Linked DNA regions of Homo sapiens: region 1 is linked to region 2. A link means that fine-mapping ties the variant in region 2 to the expression of a gene that starts in the linked region. Tissue or cell type: whole blood. Region 2 holds a variant in brackets; the other region holds the start of a gene. All regions are shown on one strand. Distances are between the middles of the regions.

Evidence for each region. PIP is the estimated chance that this variant, and not a neighbour inherited with it, causes the effect.
Region 1: CST7 starts here. The variant in region 2 is the best candidate, but not a certain one, in a credible set for the expression of CST7 in whole blood (INTERVAL, PIP 0.84).

What each region holds. Positions count from the first base shown.
Region 1 is chr20:24,943,926-24,954,652 of GRCh38, reverse strand. CST7 (cystatin F) reads right to left here and starts at 5,384. Exons shown (of 4, transcript NM_003650.4): 1 at 5,078-5,384. The coding sequence starts at 5,147. RefSeq lists an enhancer at 5,669-5,718.
Region 2 is chr20:24,971,499-24,982,225 of GRCh38, reverse strand. It overlaps APMAP (adipocyte plasma membrane associated protein), which reads left to right. Exons shown (of 9, transcript NM_020531.3): 3 at 3,344-3,459; 4 at 8,489-8,581; 5 at 10,650-10,727. It also overlaps the pseudogene RNU6-1257P. Among named protein-coding and RNA genes, the nearest start is that of APMAP, 16 kb to the left of the region's middle. RefSeq lists enhancers at 1,079-1,579, 2,341-2,841. The variant T/C (reference allele first, on the strand shown) is at 6,167.

The DNA of each region.
Region 1 (10,727 bases), 28 kb after region 2:
AGGCTTCAAGTCAATAAACCTTTCACTGTCTTACAGTTGTCTAAACAGATATTAAAAGCTCAGTTTTTAATTTAAAATTGTTTAAAAGTCAAACCTATTTTTAGGATGATTTGTTTAGAGAAATTAACAAGGAAATGTTGATCATTAAGAATTAACACCCCAAAGAGGCCACTCATCTTCAGGGAAGAAAACAAGCAGTCCAGCAGGTGGTGAGCGAATGCAGCTCTTTGAGAGCCTCCGATGGAGTCAAGGAACTGTGAAGAGGACCCCCCAGGGAGGGGGCTCTGGGTTTGCTCCGTGCAACTGAAGGCAGGGAGCGGGAGAATGGGTGCTCTCCTCCTCTGCCTGCTCTGTCTGGAGGGCCCTGCGATGCTGTTTCTTCTCATGTGTGCCCATTCTGCAGGCGAGGAGACCAAGAGCTTGGAGTGCAGGGTGGGGGGCTAAACCCAGGTGTGACTAATTCGAAACACCACTCTCACTTTTTCCTCATTCAAGACGGACTGTTTGGCAGGTGCTAGGGGAGATGCAGGGTGGACTCTAAGACAGGCCCCGCCCACAGTGGTGGGGAGGCAGAGCAGGCCTGGGGCACAGGAGAGGACACCAACCTGAGGGTAAAATGGGTGAGCAGAGGGGCAGGGGATGGGGGAGCAGCTGCAAGGTGGCTGAACTGGCCTAGGGGAGGAGGGAGCTACGTGCTGGGAAGAGTTGGGGAGACCCCGCTGGAGGCTGCTGCTGGGTGCAGAGGGTGATGGTGGTGATGGCCGCGATGACGTCAACGGAAAGAACCCACGGACCGTCAGGCTTGTGAGAAGAAACAAAAGGCACATAAAATCCGTCTGTATAGAAACAATGCCTGGGGCAGGCCAGGCCTGCTCGAGGGGAATGGGGGACCTGCCATGTGCGAGGCTCGCACCAGGAGCCTGCCGGGGCAGCCTGACCCCAGCCCACCACTGCTTCTAATGCGGGGTGGGAGGGGAGGTGGGCCATGCCTGAGACAGGTAGGGAGCTTCCAGACGTAGAAGCTGGAGGTGAGGCAGGGGCGGGCAGGGCCTGATGATACCAGGTGCTGAGCAGGCCCCAGGACACATGGTCACAGGAAGGCAAATGAAACTGTCCCCTAAGGTTGACAAGAATTGCATGCCAGGTTCTGGACAGAAAGATACTCATAATTAAGCTTGAATCAGGCTGCTGCTGGCCCAAGATGTTTTTCAGATCCCAATTCCAGCAACCAGTTTGGAAACCCCCCACGGAGGAACAGGATCATCACGAAAATACAGCTTCTTCCTCTCCCTGTGCTGTGACATCACGCTGCCCCTTCCAGCTATCGAGCTCCAGAACCCTTAAAAACCCGGGCCCCAGCCTCCTCGGGGAGATGGATTTGAGTTTCCTCCATCTCCTTGTCTGGTGATCCTGCGATCACCCTGCTTTTCTGCTGCAGCCCCGTGTTTCTGAGCATCTACTGGCTGTGTGCATGGGGCAAAGTCCTGTCCGGGTGCCCGAGGACCAGTGTGCAATGGGGTGCAGATGTGAAGCTGCCAGGCCAGGGGAGTTGCCAGGGCCTCTGCCCAAGGCAGCAGGGAGCTGCAGTTTCTGACAGCTGCTGGGCATGCCCTGGGCAGGGTACGTTCCTGTCCTCAGAGCATAGGCCCAGTGGCAGAGCTGGCACTAAGCCAACCTGAGGAGAGAAAACATGGGCAGGGATCGCTGTGGTGGCACCAGGCAGACCCTTCCCACCTGCCTTTAGTAGGAAAATGGGTGGGCACAGCGGGGGCTGGCATTGCCCACCTCCTCCCTCTTTCAGGAGTGTTCTAGGTGTGGCCGGGAGGTTGGGAAGCCCCTGCTTGTGAAACCATCCCTGAGATGGGGACCTGGGTGCCGAGAGCTGGACGCAGATGGTCCCTGCTGGTGTCCCTCCCTGTGTCACCTCAGGGGGTGCCCTTTCCATGGGCCAGTACTGAGCTGGGTGGGGAGACCCTTTGAGAGGGGCCCCATCGGCCCCCATCACCCAGAGCATAAGGTCTGCATGGCTGTGCCTGAGCACTGGGGTGTTGGGGGGGTGCAAGTCCAGCTTAGAGGTGCTGGTGTTCACTCTGCCCACCTGGAGACGCTTCACCCCAAGCCCTCTCACATGACACCATCAAAATTCAGAGAGCCTGGGTCCTTGGGGCCACACCTGCCCGCTGTGCTCTTGGGTCTCTGCCTGATGGCTAATGGCGGAGTCTATCTTTTGAGGGCACACACATGCCCCTGGCACAGACAGGACACTGAGCTCTACCAGATCAGTCCCGACCTTAACCCACTGGGACACACCCGGAGTTTGAATTCCAGCTCTGCTTCTCACTGGCTGTATGATCTCAGGCAAGCTGCCTAACCTCTCTGAGCCTCCGTGTCCTCACCTGTAAAATGAGGATGCTGACGACAGTGAGAATATATGAGGCAACATACACGAAGCACTTGTCAATAAATGATGTGCAAAACTGTAATCATTATCAATATATCAAAATGCACATGGCCACAGCAGGGGTCTCAGGGCAAATGAATGCCCCCATTGGGAAAAACAAATCTTGCCACGTAGACGGTGGCTCAGCCTGCGGCAGCTCCCAGTGCTCCCCAGGAGGCAGGAGGTCCCCGGGCTGCAAGTGGTCTCTCTGCTACTGGGAAGTAAGGACTGACATCACCTTGCAGAGGGAAGCTGAAATGGCTCCCTGACCCCAGGGCCCCTGTCCAGGCAGATGGGCCGTTGCAGCTAGAGTGGAGGGGGCAGAGGATGACATGGCACCTGGCAGAGCTTCCCAGAAGAGATGCCCATCAGATTGAGAAAGAAACAGCCCTTTTCAAAAGGGTGGCGGAAGCCAGTGTGGCAATTTCCTAGGTTCTGAAAGCCTCAGGGAGGAGAGGTGCCCTGAGGGGCTCAGCGCTATGGTCTGTGCAGTTCAGTGCATGGGTGTGGAGAGAGGCCAGATGCTCAGACGGCACCACCCTTGGGGTCCCTGTTGCTTCCCCGCCCCCTACCCCCCTCAGTCATGAGGAAGGCTCTGTAATTTATTCTCAGAGGAGGCAGCGGAGGGGCTGTAGGAGTTGTGGAGTGGGGGCAGGACGCATGCTTGTGTCTGGGGCCCAGGTTCCCATCTCTTTTTTGCTGCTAGACTGGGGGCCTCCCAGCACCCTCCCTATACAGCCGAAGACTGAAGGCCCTTGCTGGAAGCACCAGAAATGATCACAGCGCCTGGGCAGGGTGCTGGGGGCTGTCACCAGCACAGTGGCAGAAGGGCCTGCACTAGACAGAGCAGGGGGCTGAGGCTGGCGGAGAGCACCCCATGCCCCATGTGCCTCCATGCCTGTGCCTTCCCCGAGCCACCTCTGTTCAGCCTCCCCAGGGCCGGAGACGGGGTGCAGTTATCTTCCCATTTCATGGATGGTAGGACTGAGGCTGAGGGCCCGCTCTGTGTGTGTGAACGTGGGCTCTGGAGCTTCTCTCTGGGGTTTGGTGGCTGACAGCAGGTCTGCTGAGAATGGAGGGAAAGGCTTGGTGCAGCATTACATACCAGCGAGGGGCCGGGAACACCACCCAGGAAAATGACGTTGCCAGCTGCCCAGCACATCGGCTCCCACGCCACCCTGTTATAGTCCCTAGCCTGCTCCGTGAGATGAGCAGAGCTCTGAAACCCCTCAGCAGTCAGTAGGTTTAATTAGATCCCAGGACACGCTAGGACAGCTGGCTCCATGTCCCCTCCAGGAGAGCCTTTTCTGAGGTGTGAGAACGAGCCACTTCTCTGGAGTGAACTTGCCTCTCTTCCCTGCTTCCCCCTTGGACCTTGGAGACACGAAGGGGCAGGGCACAGAATGGCAGCAGGCAGGCAGCACTGCATCAGGACAGGGCCAGGAGGAGAGGCCCCTGTGAGGCTGGGAAGCAGGTGGAGGGCTCCTTGCGTGAGCTAAGAAGGCTCCCAAGCTGGGAGGCAGGGCCGGGTATGCTGTCCCCAGCCTTCTGCCAGCCATGGGTCAGCTCCATGTTCGCTGAGCACTACCCAGAGCTGGTGGCGGTGGCATGTTCCCATCAGTGAGAGCAGAAGCTGCCCCCGGCCCCTCCTCCAGCCTGCCGTGTCCCCTTGGCTGCTCAGTCGCAGCGTCCGCCCTAGGCCAGGCCTGGGAGCTCGACACAGTGTCCCCCAGCATCACTGAGTCCTCAGTATCCTGACTCACCAGGAGGAGGTGAGAACCCTCCAAGAACCCCTTGGGTGCTCTGGAGCCATCCTCTTGTCAGTGGTCCTGCTGCACAGCCCCCACCTGGGCCCCTTTGGCCAGGCTCCAGCCCCCTTCTGTCCCTGTCTGCTGGGTGGGGGTCATATGACTTGAGCGGGTCACCTCAGCCCTCTGGTGCCAGCTTCCTGGTTGGTTAAATGAGGTGGGGGCCTCCCAAGTCCCCATCAGTATCCTGGTCTGATTCCTGTGCCAGGGAGGCCATGGCCCAGTTCCCTTTGGGGGAGAGCAGGTTGTCCCTGGCTGTGTGACTTGGGCAAATCACCTAGCCTGGCTGTGTCTCAGTTTCCCAGTGCACAGGCAGTGGCTCTTTCCTCCCTGTCCCCCCTCCCCCTGAGTGCTGACCCTCAGGGAGTGGATTTCAGGAAGGGTGAAAGAGTCTGATCGTTAGGGTCCCTGGAGCCAAGTCACAGGACAACAGCCAGCAGGAAGGAATGACAAGCCATCAGATAGAAGCGGCTAACCACAGGCATGTGGCTGCCCTGTCGCCTCCGTCCCGCAGAGGAGCTGCGGGAGACCTGCCTTACTTAGACCTTTCTCAGACCTCTGTGAAGAGCCAGAGAATAGAAGATGCTTCCCTTGCCCCTAGCCTTCTGGGGCAGCCCCCAAACCCTTCATCCCTGTAGCCTGCTACCCCCAAAGGTAGCTGCAGCCAGATGGAGCCCCTTGCCCCTCTCACCACTCCCAGCACCTCTCACCACCGCATGGTCCTGTGGGGGCTCCAAGCTAGGAAAGTGCCCTGGGGAAGACCCAAGGCACCAGTGGCCAATCTCAGGGAGAGACCCCCGGGGAGCGGACAGGGGAGAACGCCACTTACCTGGGGAAGGGCCCCCAGTGGTGCTCAAGACCAGGCAGCAGAAGGCCAGCAGAGTTCCAGCCGCTCGCATGGCTGCCCGGGTAGGGACAGTGCGGGGCAGTTGGGGGTGGCCGTGCAGTGCCTTCTCAGGCAGCATGGGGCAGTTGGAGGCAGTGGTTGGTGCCCGTGCCGAGCCTTCTTGGGTAGATGGCGCAGGGCAGGTGGGGGCAGTGGTCTGTGCCCGTGCCAATCCTTCTCAGGCAGCACGGGCCAGTGCCGGGCAATGGTTTGTGCCTGTGCTGAGCCTTCTTGGGCAGCATGGAACAGTGGGCTGTCCCAGCCCAGGGGCAGGTGCCAGGGCCACAGCATGGAACCCCACCCTGCAAACCACTGTGGGATGGGGCAGGGGCGGGGCTAGGGGGCTGCCTGCGTGGTGCTGGGGAGGGGAGTGTTTTGCTGCTGAATCATTTTGGCCAGAAGCTCTTCACCTTCAGATCTATCAGCCACAAAGCAACCGCTTCCTTTATAAAAGTTTCCGAGCAGCCGTCATTTGCTGGGGGAGGAGGAAGAGACATGAGACCCATGAGCAAATCCTGATGCAATGTTCTACCCCTGAGCCACACACGAAAGAGATGTTGCATGAAAAACATTAGCAGGAATTTTCAAAAGCAAAATCACTTGATTTTCCTTTTTCTTTTAATTACTTAAGTTCTGGGGTACATGTGCAGAACATGCAGGTTTGTTACATAGGTATACACGTGCCATGGTGGTTTGCTGCACCCATCAACCCATCATCTACATTAGGTATTTCTCCAAATGCTATCCCTCCCCTGGCCCCGGATCCCCAGATAGTCCTTGGTGTGTGATGTTCCCCTCCCTGTGTCCATGTGTTCTCATTGTTCAACTCCCACCTATGAATGAGAACATGCGGTGTTTGGTTTTCTGTTCTTGTGTTAGTTTGCTGAGAATGATGGTTTCCAGCTTCATCCATGTCCCTGCAAAGGACATGAACTCATCTTTTTTATGGCTGCATAGTATTCCATGGTGTATATGTGCCACATTTTCTTTATCCAGTCTACCATTGATGGGCATTTGGGTTGGTTCCAAGTCTTTGCTATTGTGACTAGTGCTGCAGTAAACATACGTGTGCATGTGTCTTTATAGTAGAATGATTTTTGAGTATATACCCAGTAATGAAATTGCTGGGTCAAATGGTATTTCTGGTTCTAGATCCTTGAGGAATCACCACACTGTCTTCCACAATGGTTGAACTAATTTACACTCCCACCAACAGTGTAAAAGCGTTCCTATTTCTCCACATCCTCTCCAGCATCTGTTGCTTCCTGACTTTTTAACGATCACCATTCTAACTGGCATGAGATGGTACCTCATTGTGGTTTTGATTTGCATTTCTCTAATGACCAGTGATGATGAGCGTTTTTTCATATGTTTCTTGGCTGCATAAATGTCTTCTTTTTAGTGTCTGTTCATATCCTTCACCCAATTTTTGATGGGGTTGTTTTTTTCTTGTCAATTGTTTAAGTTCCTTGTAGATTCTCGACATTAGCTCTTTGTCAAATGGATATATTGCAAAAATTTTCTCCCATTCTGTAGGTTGCCTGTTCACTCTGATGACAGTTTCTTTTGCTGTGTGGAAGTTCATTAGTTTAATTAGGTCCCATTTATCAATTTTGGCTTTTGTTGCTATTCCTTTTGGTGTTTTAGTCATGAAGTCTTTGCCCATGCCTATGTCCTGAATGGTACTGCCTAGGTTTTCTTCTAGGGTTTTTATGGTTTTAGGTCTTAAGTCCTTAATCCATGTTGAGTTAATTTTTGTATAAGGTGTAAGGAAGGGGTCCAGTTTCAGTTTTCTGCAAATGGCTAGCCAGTTTTCCCAACACCATTTATTAAATAGGGAATCCTTTCCCCATTGGTTGTTTTAGTCAGGTTTGTCAAAGATCAGGTGGTTGTTGATGTGTGGTGTTATTTCTGGGCTTCTGTTCTGTTCCATTGGTCTATATATCTGTTTTGGTACCAGTACCATGCTGTTTTGGTTACTGTAGGCTTGTAGTATGGTTTGAAGTCAGATAGCATGATGCCTCCAGCTTTGTTCTTTTTGCTTAGGATTGTCTTGGCTATGCAGGCTCTTTTTTGGTTCCCTATGAACTTTAAAGTAGTTTTTTCCAATTCTGTGAAGAAAGTCAATGATAGCTTGATGGGGGATATCACTGAATCTATAAATTACTTTGGGCAGTATGGCCATTTTCACAACATTGATTCTTCCTATCCATGAGCATGGAATGTTTTTCCATTTATTTGTATCCTCTCTTATTTCCTTGAACAGTGGTTTGTAGTTCTCCTTGAAGAGGTCCTTCACATCCCTTGTAAGTTGTATTCCTAGGTATTTTATTCTCTTTGTAGCAATTGTGAATGGGAGTTCACTTATAATTTCACTCTCTGTTTGTCTATTATTGGTGTATAGGAATGTTTGTGATTTTTGCACATTGATTTTGTATCCTGAGACTTTGCTGAAGTTGCTTATCAGCTTGTGGAGATTTTGGGCTGAGATGATGGGGTTTTCTAAATATACAGTCATGTCATCTGCAAACAGAGACAATTTGACTCCCTCTTTTCCTATTTGAATACTCTTTATTTCCTTCTCCTGCCTAATTGCCCTGGCCAGAACTTCCAACACTATGTTGAATAGGAGTGGTGAGAGAGGGCATCCTAGTCTTGTGCCAGTTTTCAAAGGGAATGCTTCAAGTTTTTGTCCATTCAGTATGATATTGGCTGTGGGTTTGTCATAAATAGCTCTTATTATTTTAAGATACAGTTCATCAAAACCTACTTTATTCAGAGTTTTTAGCATGAAGGGGTGTTGAATTTTGTTGAAGGCCTTTTCTGCATCTATTAAGATAATCATGTGGTTTTTCTCATTGGTTCTGTTTATATGCTGGATTACGTTTATTGATTTGCATATGTTGAACCAGCCTTGCATTCCAGGTATGAAGCTGACTTGATCATGGTGGATAAGTTTTGATGTGCTGCTGGATTCAGTTTGCCATATTTTATTGAGGATTTTCACATTGATGGGACATCAGGGATATTGGCCTGAAATTTTCTTTTTGTTGTGTTTCTGCCAGGTTTTGGTATTAGGATGATGCTGGCCTCATAAAATGAGTTAGGGAGGATTCCCTCTTTTTCTCTTGTTTGGAATAGTTTCAGAAGGAATGGTAGCAGCGCCTCTTTGTACCTCTGGTAGAATTCAGCTGTGAATCCATCTGGTCCTGGACTTTTTTTTGGTTGGTAGGCTATTAATTACTGCCTCAATTTCAGAACTTGTTATTGATCGATTCAGGGATTCGACTTCTTCCTGGTTTAGACTTGGGAGGGTGTGTGTGTCCAGGAATTTACCCATTTCTTCTAGATTTTCTAGTTTATTAGTTTAGAGGCATTTACAGTATTCTCTGATGGTAGTTTGTATTTCTATGGGATCACTGGTGATATCCCCTTTATCATTTTTTATTGCATCTATTTGATTCTTCTCTCTTTTCTTCTTTATTAGTCTTGCTAGTGGTCTATCTATTTTGTTGATCTCTTCAAAACACCAGCTCCTTGATTCATTGATTTTTTGAAAGGTTTTTCATGTCTCTATCACTTTCAGTTCTGCTCTGATCTTAGTTATTTCTTGTCTTCTGCTAGCTTTTGAATTTGTTTGCTCATGCTTCTTTAGTTCTTTTACTTGTGATGTTAGGGTGTCAATTTTAGATCTTTCCTGCTTTCTCTTGTGGGCATTTAGTGCTATAAATTTCCCTCTACACACTGCTATAAATGTGTCCTAGAGATTCTGGTACATTGTGTCTTTGTTCTGATTGGTTTCAGAGAACATCTTTATTTCTGCCTTAATTTCATTATGTACGCAGTAGTCATTCAGGAGCAGGTTGTTCAGTTTCCATGTAGTTGTTCAGGTTTGAGTGAGTTTCTTAATCCTGAGTTCTAATTTGATTGCACTGTGGTCTGAGAGACTGTTTGTTATGACTTCCATTCTTTAGTATTTGCTGAGGAGTGTTTTACTTCCAATTATGTGGTCAATTTTAGAATAAGTGCAATGAGATGCTGAGAAGAATGTATATTCTGTTGATTTGGGGTGGAGAGTTCTGTAGATGTCTATTAGGTCTGCATGGTCCAGAGCTTAGTTCAAATCCTGAATATCCTTATTAATTTTCTGTCTCATTGTTATAATATTGACAGGGTGTTAAAATCTCCCATTATTATTGTGTGGGAGTGTAGGTCTCTTTGTAGGTCTCTAAGAACTTGCTTTATGAATGTAGGTGCTTCTGTATTGGGTGCATGTATATTTAGGATAGTTAGTTCTTCTTGTTGAATTAATACCTTTACCATTATGTAATACCCTTCTTTGTCGTTTTTGATCTTTGTTGGTTTGAAGTCTGTTTTATCAGAGACTAGGATTGCAACCCTTGCTTTGTTTTTGGTTTCCATTTGCTTGGTAAATATTCCTCCATGTATTTATTTTGAGCCTATTTGTGTCTTCGCATGTGAGATGGGTCTCCTGAACACAGCACACCAATGAGTCTTGACTCCATTCAATTTGCCAGTCTGTGTCTTTTAATTGGGGCATTTAGCCCATTTACATTTATGGTTAATATTATTATTATGATTTTGATCTTGTCATTATGATGCTAGCTGGTTATTTTGCCCATGAGTTGATGCAGTTTCTTCATCGTGTCAATGGTCTTTACAATTTGATATGTTTTTGCAGTGGCTGGTACCAGCTGTTCCTTTCCATGTTTAGTGCTTCCTTCAGGAGCTCTTGTAAGGCAGGCCTGGTGGTGACAAAATCTCCCAGCATTTGCTTGTCTGTAAAGGATTTTATTTCTCCTTCACTTATGAAGCTTAGTTTGGCTGGATATGCAATTCTGGGTTGAAAATTCTTTTCTTTAAGAATGTTGAATATTGGCCCCCACTGTCTTCTGGCTTGTAGGGTTTCTGCAGAGAGATCTGCTGTTAGTCTGATGGGTTTTCCTTTGTGGGTAACCCAACCTTTCTCTCTGGCTGCCCTTAACATTTTTCCTTCATTTCAAGCTTGGTGAATCTGATGATTATGTGTCTTGGGGCTGCTGTTCTCAAGGAGTATCTTTGTGGTGTTGTCTATATTTCCTGAATTTGAATGTTGGCCTGTCTTGCTAGGTTGGGGCAGTTATCCTGGATAATATCCTGAAGAGTGTTTTCCAGCTTGGTTCCATTCTCCCTGTCACTTTCAGGTACACCAATCAAATGTAGATTTGGTCTTTTCACATAGTCCCATATTTCTTGGAGGCTTTGTTTATTCCTTTTCATTCCTTTTGCTCTCATCTTGTCTTCTTGCTTTATTTCATTAAGTTGATCCTCAATTTCTGATATCCTTTCTTCCACTTGATTGATTTGGCTATGATACTTGTGTATGCTTCACAAAGTTCTCATGCTGTGTTTTTCAACAACATCAGGTCAAAAAAAAAAAAAAGTTAGATGAATTGCTAACTAGAATAACCAGTTTTGAGAAATCACTTGATTTTCTTCTCCAAACCGTATACCCCTCCTGCCCAAACTTCTGGTGTTCCAAGTGGCCCCAGGCAGGAGGCTCTCTCTCCCTATGGGGTGAGTGGGCATCTGG
Region 2 (10,727 bases):
AGTGGAACTGTCACAGCCAACGGGTCTCTCTCTCTCTCCTGGGCTCAGCTTTCAGAATGGCAGTGGAACCATCACAGCCAACAGGGACCTCTCTCCTGGGCTCAGCTTATGGCATTGGAATCACAGCCAACAGGGGCCTCTCTCCTGGGCTCTGCTTTTGGCATGGCACACTCAAAAACAGGAAGATAGGCCCCAAAATGCAGAGCAGAAGCAGAAGCCTGGTACATGACAGAGCTTGGTGTGTCTCATGCAAGAACGTGGCCACAACACAGGCCATGCCCCATGCACGCCATCCCAGCGGGTGCTGACTCAGCTGCAGCCCTCTCAGCCCACAGTCACTCTGTGGAAGGACATGGTTTCTCTCCAGAAGGGAACAAAAAGTTTATTTTTCATAGAAGGATATGAATGTTTCTAGTCACTGAAAAAATATCAGTTAAAGTCAAATTTATGGTAAAAAAAAATAGAGCAGCATTTTGGAGAATGGATTTGGTTGCTATAATTTTAAAGACCAACAGAAAGAGTAATTCTACTGGGAGTTGAAAGTTGCAGTACTGTTAGAAGTACACATTTTACTATCGGGTGAAACTGTCAAACTGAGAGATATTAAAAAATAGCAACAACCTTTATGGGTGGTCTGGGACATCAAGAGCAAATAGAAGCACTGTATAAAACTCAGGCAGGGCCAACAGGAGACCCGCTGGGGAGGGAGAGAGCAGTGCCCCACACCCTGGCTTCCTGTGTTAGGGAGAGAGATGTGGGGGACCTCAGAGAGCTGGTTCTCAGAAGTGCTTAGGAAAACCTTTGTGCAGTCTGTGGGTCACAGTGGGTCACTTCTCTGCAGTTGAGTATTACTGCATTAGTGCAGGCTTTCTTCACTTGTGCCAGCCATCCGTGATCATACAGATGCCCTGTTACTCTGTTCACATCTCCCCACGTTGTCACAGGGATCTTGAAAACTACTCTGTACATGCTATAGGAATCAGGATGTCATATATGCTGTGTCTATGACAGCCCTCTAATCTTCCCAGAAAGAAGGGAAAGTGACTTTGCAGGGCAGGTTTTTGGCAAAGCCCTGCAGCCTTCCTGGTGATTTTGTTCTCAAGTACTGAAACCAGCTGTGTAATAGTCCAGACTGGAAGAGCGACCATCCTTCTCTTTGTCCCTCCATACTCCTGGTCTGCCTGTTCTCTGATTTTTTAGAGATTTCTAAGTGTGGTCTAAGCTCTCACGGGAGTGATGTAGTATCCTGGGTAGACTCCCAAACACCCGTCCATCAGCTGAGTGGCCGTTTCTGCCCCGTCTGCTGGCCTGATCCTCTTGACCATGGTGGCCCTGCGCTGCCTGGCGTGTAGAGGTGATGGAGGCCGAGCGAAGCTGGCAGCTCTGCTTGTCATCGTGGCATGGCCTCTTGACCATGGTGACCCCACACTGCCCGGTGTGTAGAAGTGACCGAGGCCGAGCGAAGCTGGTAGGTCTGCTTTTGTCATTGTGGCATGGCCTCTTGACCATGGTGACGCCACGCTGCCCAGTGTGTAGAGGTGACAGAGGCTGAGCGAAGCTGGTAGGTCTGCTTTTGTCATGGTAGCATGGCCTCTTGACTGTGGTGGCCCTGCACTGCCCGGCGCGTAGAGGTGACCGAGGCCAAGCGAAGCTGGTAGGTCTGCTTTTGTCATCGTGGCATAGCCTCTTGACCATGGTGGCCCCGCGCTGCCCAGCGTGTAGAGGTGACCGAGGCCGAGCATGGCCTCTTGACTATGGTGACCCCATGCTGCCCGGCGTGTTGAGGTGACCGAGGCCGAGCGAAGCTGGCAGCTCTGCTTGTCATCGTAGCATGGCACCAATTGCCCCAGGTGGGGTTTCCCTTCCTTCCTCTTTTGCTGTGAAGAGAGCTTTAAAGAAGCTCTTTTTGCTGTTGTCATAAACTTTTCCCCAACGCTTAGCTCCTTCCTGTTCTTGAATTCTCTGCCTTGCTGGAGGCAGGGGACAGGGGATAATCGGAAGATATTCCTCTCTACTTTGGTTTCCTCCAGCAGTGCTCGTTGGGAGCCTTCTGTGTGCCATGTTGGGTGCCAGATGCTGGGAATACAGTAGAGAAAAACACAGAAAGAAATCCCTGATCTCATGGAGCGTATGTTCTAGTGGGGACAAACAGACCATAAACATAACAGAAGCAGATCACACAGTGCATGAGAAGCTGGTGTGTGCTATGAGGAGCATGGAGTAGGGCAGGGGCCTGGGTTCGGGGGAGGTATCGGATATTTAGTTGGGTGGTCAGAGTGGGCCTCCTGGGTGGGGGATGGTTGCTGTTCCAAGTGGAGCAAAGAGCTGGTGTGAAGGCCCTGGATAGGGAGATGCTGGTGTGGTTAGGACCCAGCAGGGAGGGGCTGGTGTGAGGGATGCAGAAGGCACAAGGGAGAGAGGGGGCAAGAAGGTGCTGTGGCCAGGTTGCGGTGCTCAGAGGCTGCTGCCAGGACTTGGCTCTAGGTGAGAGGGGGCCATTGTGGGGCTCTGAATAGAGGAAGGTCATGATCCGGCATGGCTGCTGGATTGAGAATAGACTACAGGGGTCAAGGGAGGGAGCAGGGGCGAGGCGAGAGGATGGTGGCCCCAGCCAGGGTTGTAAGGAGGACATGGGGAGACGGGTTCAATGGTGTCTTTTCAAAGTGGCCTCAGCAGAACTTGATGGTGGGTTGGGAGGCGTGACATACTGGCATGTGGATGGGAAGGACGAGTAGAGGCAGGAGTTTCTGGAGCCGTGTCTGTGAGTAGAAGGGCTCCAGGGCCCAGCTCAGGCTCCTGCTTCAGGAAGAGCCTGGTGGGCCTCGAGAATATCAGCGGGAGGTGGCGTGCCCTGTGCTGGACCATGGGACGGTGGCTCCAGTCCCAGGAAGGTCTCCCCTTGCTCCTTCCATCTTCTCTGTGAAATACGAGGCCGGGTCATCAGGTGTGAAACGTGGGCACTGCCCCCCACCACCCTAGGTAGACTCCAGTGGCTGTAGGGCTGTGAGTCACAGGGGTGAGGAGGTCCAGCTGCCCTGAGGCATTGGATGGGGGTGGGGAGCTGGGGAGGCTGGAGGATGGGTGGGCACAGGCCTCAGGATGCTCTCAGGTGACAAGATTGCTGAAGGTCTTGCACTAGCACATTTATATTTTTATATTTCTTTTGTACCATGATGTTTTCTGATATCCTAGAACAGTTTTTTCTTAACCCTTGTATTTCTGGCAACTGAGGATGTTGTTAGAAAGTGCCATCTTTATCAAAGAACTGAGAGCAGGTGCTCGGTACACATTTTCTTCACATGTGTATTTATAGACAGATCTCTGGAATTGCATTATTTTGCAGCTTCAAAGAACCCCCGCTCTTGCTTGGTGTTCTGCATCCAAATACGAAGCTGCGACAGGCAGAAAGGCTGTTTGAAAATCAACTTGTTGGACCGGAGTCCATAGCACATATTGGGGGTAAGTCTAAGCTTGGGTGGGGGGGGAGCCTTCCAGGCTGTCTGTTGTCTGAGGGGGCGGGTTCTGTGGGAGCAGCTGCAGTGGCACGCTGCCCCTGGACTGGGGCCCTGCACATCCTTCTTAGCTGCGGACGTGGGACTTGGCCCTCAGACATCACATGGGAGGCCCTAGTGGCTCTTTCTGCTGGTCTCATCTGCCCAGTTTGCATGCCATTTTAGCACTGGGTGATTTTGAATTCATCTCTATGGAACACTTTGTTGTGCTCAAAGTGTTGTGAAAGGAAAAAGGCCAAATACAGATACTGATTTTTAGTTCATTTATCAAAGTTAAATAGCTATTTGACAGCACAGTATTTCTTAGTTCCATTTGCTTTGTATAGATTTCACTGTGATGAAGACAAATGGTTCTCAATATTTCCACTGTTTTTGTCTGACTGTTTGAAATCTCACCTTGATGGGTACACTTAAGGGTAACCATCTGCATCACACTTGCCCATGCCTCAGAACTAGAATTGGGTCTGGTTCTAATACTTGCATCTCTAGCAACCTTGAACAAGGCATTTTCTGTTTGTTAAAATGAGAATTAAGTTTAGTATTGGGAAGGCACAGATAGTCACAGATAGTTTAAAACTTAATCTGGTATGGGCTTGCTGAGCAGCTTCTTTGGAAGTGCCGCTTGTTATTCTGAAGCACACTGTTCTCCAGGCAGTGGGTGGCTGTGGATATGTGCACACAGGGTGCTTCTGTTGTGCTCTCAAGGCCGGTCAGTGGCCTCTCTTCTAGTGACGTTTGACCAGCTTCTCTTGCCTGGGCCCTGTTATTTGACACAGGCCCCAAGGACTGGTCCATTTCTGCAGTTGGTTTGTTTTCTTGGCTGTCAAAGTCAAAATTGTTTCAAGAAGAGTAAATATCATGATAGAACTTTGTATTTCTCTTAAAAAGACATTGGCATTTATTTGTGTAAATTTTAAAAGCTTTAGCTTTTTTTGGTGAAAAATCAAATCTTGCTCTTTAAAACTGAAACTTAACAGCAGTTGAAGTGCAAACCAATGATCTTACCTCCCAAAGAGAGCACTTTCCTGTCTTTTTCTTTTTCACTGGGTTACTTCTCATTGTACTTTGTCACCAGGTCCCAGCTTTTTCTCTTTCTTTGATGAGCTGGTGACATTTCTTGGCCAGGCACAGTGGGGTCCTCTCTGGTGGGTGTGAGCCGCAGGGACCTGCCACTGCTGTCTCTGCCACCTCATTTGGAAGCTGTCCTGGGGGCTGGCTGGCAGGTTGCTGACAGTGGAAGGAGGTACTAGCTCTGGGGAGTGCTGGGAGAGAGTAACCACCAACTATAGCAGGCTTTATTTTATTTGTTTTTAAGTAGACTTTATTTTTAAGAGCAGTTTTAGGTTCACAGCAAAATTGAGCAGAAGGTACAGAGATTTTCTGAAAAAGAGTTTTTATTACGATTGGGTGTTGCATTTCGTCAAATACTTTTTCTGCACACATGCCATGCACAGCCTCCCACATGATCAACATCCCCCACCACAAGGGTAAGTTTGTTACAAGTGATGTACTCACATCAATACGTCAATAGTACTCGGAGTCTGTAGTTTACGGTAGGGTTCACTCTTGGTTTTATACATTCTATGGGTTTGGACAAATGCCATGTATCCACTGTTATGGTATCTTACAGGGTGTTTTCACTGCCCTGAAAATCCTCTTTGCTCTGCCTGTTCATTCCACCCTTTTCTTTTAACCCATGGCAACCACTGATCTTTTTGCCATCTCCATAGTTTTGCCTTTTCCAGAATGTTATGTAGCTGGACTCATACAGTATGTAGCCTTTTCAGATTGGCATCTTTCACTTAGTAGTATGCATTTATTTAAAATTCCTCCATGTCTTTCCATGGGTTGATAGCTCATTTCTTTTTAGCACTGAGTAATATTCCATTGTATGGATGTGCCACAGTTTAGTTACCTACTGAAGTACATCTTGGTTGCTGCTAAGTTTTGGCAGTTATGAATAAGGCTGGTATAAACATCTGTGGGCAGGTTTTTGTGTGGACCTAAGTTTTCAGCTCATTTGGGTAAATACCGAAAAGCATAATTGCTGGATTGTATGGTAAGAGTTAAGTTTTGTAAGAAACCACCAAGCGTTTCCAAAGTGGCTGTACCATTTGCCTTCCCATTAACAATTAGTGAGAGTTCCTGATGCTCCATGTCCTCGCCAGCATTTGGTGGTGTCAGTGTTTTGGATTTTGGCCCTTTTAATAGGTGTATAGTGGTGTCTCGTTGTTTTAATTTGCATTTCTCTGATGATATTTGATGTGGAATATCTTCATATGCCTACCTGCCATCTGTATATCTTCTTGGTGATGTGTCTGTTCAGGCCTTTTGCCCATTTTTGTAATTGGGTTGTTCATTTTCTTATTGTTGAGTTTTAAGAGTTGTTTGTGTATTTTGGATAATAGTTCTTTATCAGACATGTTGTTTGCCAATATTTTCTCCAGTCTGTGGCTTCTCATTCTTTTGACAGTATCTTCTGTAGAGCAAGAGTTTTTAATTTTAATGAAGTTTCACTTATTAATTATTTCTTCATGTATCTCACCTTGGTTTTATATCTAAAAATTCATCATCATACCCTAGGTGTTATATCTAAAAATTCATCATCATACCTAGATTTTCTCCTATGTTCTAGGAATTTGTTTTGTATTTTA[T/C]ATTTAGGTCTATGATCCATTTTGAATTCCATTTTTGTGAAGGGTATAAGGTTTGTGTCTAGATTTATTTGTTTGCATGTGGATGCAAACAAATTTGTTCCAGCACCATTTGTGGAAAACACTGTCTTTTCTCCATTATGCATTGCCTTTACTCCTTTGTCAAAAGATCAGTTGATTGTATTTATGTGGGTCTGTCTCTGGGCTAAAAATTTTATCTGTTCTATTGATTTATTTTTCTATTCTTTTGCTAATACCACATTGTCTTGATTACTGTAGCTTTATAGAGAATCTTGAAGTTGAGTAGTTTCAGTCCTCTGACTTTATTCTTTTCCTTCAATATTGTATTGGATATTTTGAGTCTTCGCCCTCTCCATATGAACTTTAGGATTCATTTGTCTGTATCTACAAAATAACTTGCTGGGATTTTGATTGGGATTGCATTGAATCTATAGATTAAGGTTGGGAAAAACTGACATCTTGACAATATTGAGTATTCCTGTCCATGAACATGGAATATCTCTCCATTTATTTAGTTCTTTGATTTCTTTCATCAGAATATTCTAGTTTTCCTCATATAGACCTCGTGTATATTATATTATATTTATACCTAAGTATGCCAATCTTTTGGATGCTAATGTACATAGTATTGTGTTTTCAATTCCAAATTCCATTTGTTCATTGTTAGTATAAAGGAAGGTGAGTCAATATCTTGCAATATCCTGCAACCATGCTATAATTGCTTGGTTCCAGGAGGGTTTTTTGTTGTTGTTGATTCTTTCAGATTTTCTATCTAGACAATTATGTCACTTGCAAACAAAGAAAGTTTTATTTCTTTCTTCTCAATCTGTATACCTTTTGTTTCCTTTTCATGTCTTACTGCATTAGCTAGGTCTTCAAGTATGATACTGAAAAGGAGTGGTGATAGGGGCATCTTTGCCTTGTTCTTGATCTTAGCAGGAAAGCTTCTAGTTTGTCATCCATAAGTATGATGTTATATGTAGATTTTTTTATAGATATTCTTGATCAAGTTAAGAAAGTTTCCCCTCTACTCCCAGCTTGCTGAGAGTTTTTAATCATGAATGGGTGTTGGATGTTACTAGATGTTTTTTTCTGTATCTGTTGATATGATCATGTGATTATTCTTGTTTAGATTGTTGAAGTCTCTAACTGTGATAGTGGATTCTGTTTCTCCTTGCAGTTTCATCAGTTTTTGCCTCACATATTGGTGCTCTATTGTGAAGCATATACACATTAAAGGTTCTTATGTTTTTTTGAGGCATTGACCCCTTTGTCATTGTGTGATGCTCCTCTTTATCCCTGATAACTTTCCTTGGTCTGAAGTGTTCTCTGTCTGAATTTAATACAGCTATTCTGGGTTGCTTTTGGTTAGTGTTAACATGATGTACTTTCTTCATCCCTTCACTTTTAATCTATATATGTCTTTATATTTAAAGTGGGTTTCTTGTACACAACATAGAGTTGGGTCTTGTTTTTTGAATAATTCTGGCAATGTCTCTCTTTCAGTTGGTATATTTAGACCATTTATGTTTAAAGTGATTATTGATATATTGGATTAATATCTACCGTATTTGTTACTGTTTTCTATTCTTTGCCCTTATTCTTTGTTTCTATTTTTGCATTCTACTCTCTTTTTGTCTTTTGTAGTTTTAAACTGAGTATTTTATATGATTCCATTTTCTCTCCTTTCTTAGCATATCAGTTATACTTCTTTTTTTTACTTTTTGTAGTGGTTACCCTTGAGTTTGCAATATACATTTGAAAACTATGGAATGTTTTATGAATTTGTGTATCATCATTGCTCAAGGGGCATGCTAGTAGTCTTCTCTGTATCATTCTAATTTTAGTATATGTGCTGCTGAAGTAAGCACTTAATGTGCTGTAATTTTCTTCTAAAGGATTTCTGGCAGTTCTTCTCCTTTAGTTGGATATAATCAATATCAGCAGCAGACACTGATGTGAGGTGAATATGAACTCATGCCCCTAAGTGCTGAGTGTCAGCTTGAGTGCTTCAGGACTGGAGAAAATCCTCACAGTTCTCATCACTGACTGGTATCTGCTGCACCCTTGCTTTTGAGTCAGGTTCATGCCCACAGGCTGCTTCCCTAGGCCCCCGCAGTTTTATCACTGTAAGTTTTAAGGATTTTTCATATTCCCAGAAATTGCTTCTCTTCCATCTTGAGAATTGGCATTTCCTCTATAGGGCAGGGGGAACATGTAAACAAGCCCTCTTGTAGGAGAAGGCGGCTTAGTCACATTTCTTAGGCTAACATTGCTCTTCCTCCTTTTTGTGTTTTTAAACAGATGTGATGTTTACTGGGACAGCAGATGGCCGGGTCGTAAAACTTGAAAATGGTGAAATAGAGACCATTGCCCGGTTTGGTTCGGGCCCTTGCAGTAAGTTGGTGATAATCCCTCGATGTGTCTCTTCCAGTCTTTCAGAAAGATGTTGGATCGTTGTGTGGAACTGCTTTTCCCTAGAATGCCTGTGGGAGAAAAAGAACCTCTGACCATCTAGTAGATGGAACATGACGTCACTACGAGCTCTTCATTTGCCGGGTGGTCCTTGGGCCTCACGGTGCCTGATGGTCACCTACAGTCCCCATTTTGCAGCTGGGTAGTGGCTGTGGCCCCTGCTTGGTACTGCATGGGCCTCGCCCCTCACCATTTTATTGGGGTCCCCGTTTACCTTTGCGGTACTTCAGAGGCTAATAGGTGTTATCACAGTGCTGCTGTGGAAAAGTAGGTGGCCTTGTCATTACTTGGATGTGTAAGTGTTATTCTGCCTTGGTCTCAGGAATTTCAGCCCTGTAAGTGAGAATACCCTTAAGTCATTCAAATTTTGGAAAACTAGAGTAGAAGACTCACTGTTTAAAACTGATAGTCTATAGACTTAATAGTTATCATTTTTTAATAGCTGGAATGTTTTTATTAAAGTGATGTATTTTCATAAACACAAACAACACAAAGGTACAAAGGAGAAAATAAAAATCACCTGAGTCTTTTCAGATGTAATTGTTATGAACATTTTAGTGGTTCACTTTTCAGACATCTTTTTGTTCATGGACATGCACACCCACACGTATGATGGAATTATACCCTACATCAGTTCTTTAACCTGCCTTTTTCCGTGCCATTTTGGCAGTAAGCACCCTGCAGTGAGCATCCCACAGTGAACACCCTGCAATAAGCATTTGCAGTGAGCACCCATGGTCAGCACCTACAATAGCACCTGGAGTGATCACCCATGGTGAGCACCCTACAGTAAGCACCTGCAGTGAGCACCCCACAGTGAACACCCTGCAGTAAGCACCTACAGTGAGCACCTATAGTGAACACCTGCAGTGGTACTTGCAATGAGCACCCTACAGTTAATGACCCACAAAAGCACCTGTAGTGAGCACCCTGCAATAAGCACCTGTAGTGAGCACCCCACAGTGAACACCCTGCAATAAGCACCTGTAGTGAGCACCTTCAGTGAGGACCCCACAGTGAACACCTTGCAATAAGCATCTGCAGTGAACACCCCACAGTGAACTCCCTGCAGTAAGCCCCTGCGGTGAGCACCCCACAGTGACCACCCTGCAATAACACCCTGCAATAAGCGCCTGCAGTGAGCACTCCACTTGAACACCCTGCAGTAAGCACCTGCAGTGAGTACCTCACAGTGAACACCCTGCAATAAGCACCTGCAGTGAGCACCCCACAGTGAACATCTTGCAATAAGCCCCTGTGGTGAGCACCCCACAGTGAACACCCTGCAATAACACCCTGCAATAAGCACCTGCAGTGAGCACTCCACTTGAACACCCTGCAGTAAGCACCTGCAGTGAGTACCTCACAGTGAACACCCTGCAATAAGCACCTGCAGTGAGCACCCCACAGTGAACACCTTGCAATAAGCACCTGCAATGAGCACCCCACAGTGAACACCCTGCAATAACCACCTGCAGTGAGCACCCCACAGTGAACACCCTACAATAAGCACCTGCAGTGAGCACTCTACACAAACACCCTGCAGTAAGCACCTGTAGTGAGCACCCCACAGTGAACACCCTGCAGTAAGCACCTGCAGTGAGCACCCTGCAATAAGCACCTGCAGTGAGTACCCCACAGTGAACACCCTGCAATAAGCACCTGCAGTGAGCACCTCACAGTGAACACCCTGCAATAAGCAACTGTAGTGAGCACCCTGCAATAAGCACCTGCAGTGAACACCCCACAGTGAACACCCTGCAGTAAGCACCTACAGTAAGCACCCTGCAGTGAGCACCCCACAATGAACACCTTGCAATAAGCACCTGCAGTGAGCACCTGCAGGGCAGTTGTAGCTCTAATGCCATGGTCTTGTCTTGTTCTGTACAGCATGATGTATGGGAAGGGATGGATGAGATGCTTGGATACTGAGAACAGCACATGTAGAATCCGGGACCAGCTACCAATCCCCATCTGTTTGTTTTTCTAGAAACCCGAGATGATGAGCCTGTGTGTGGGAGACCCCTGGGTATCCGTGCAGGGCCCAATGGGACTCTCTTTGTGGCCG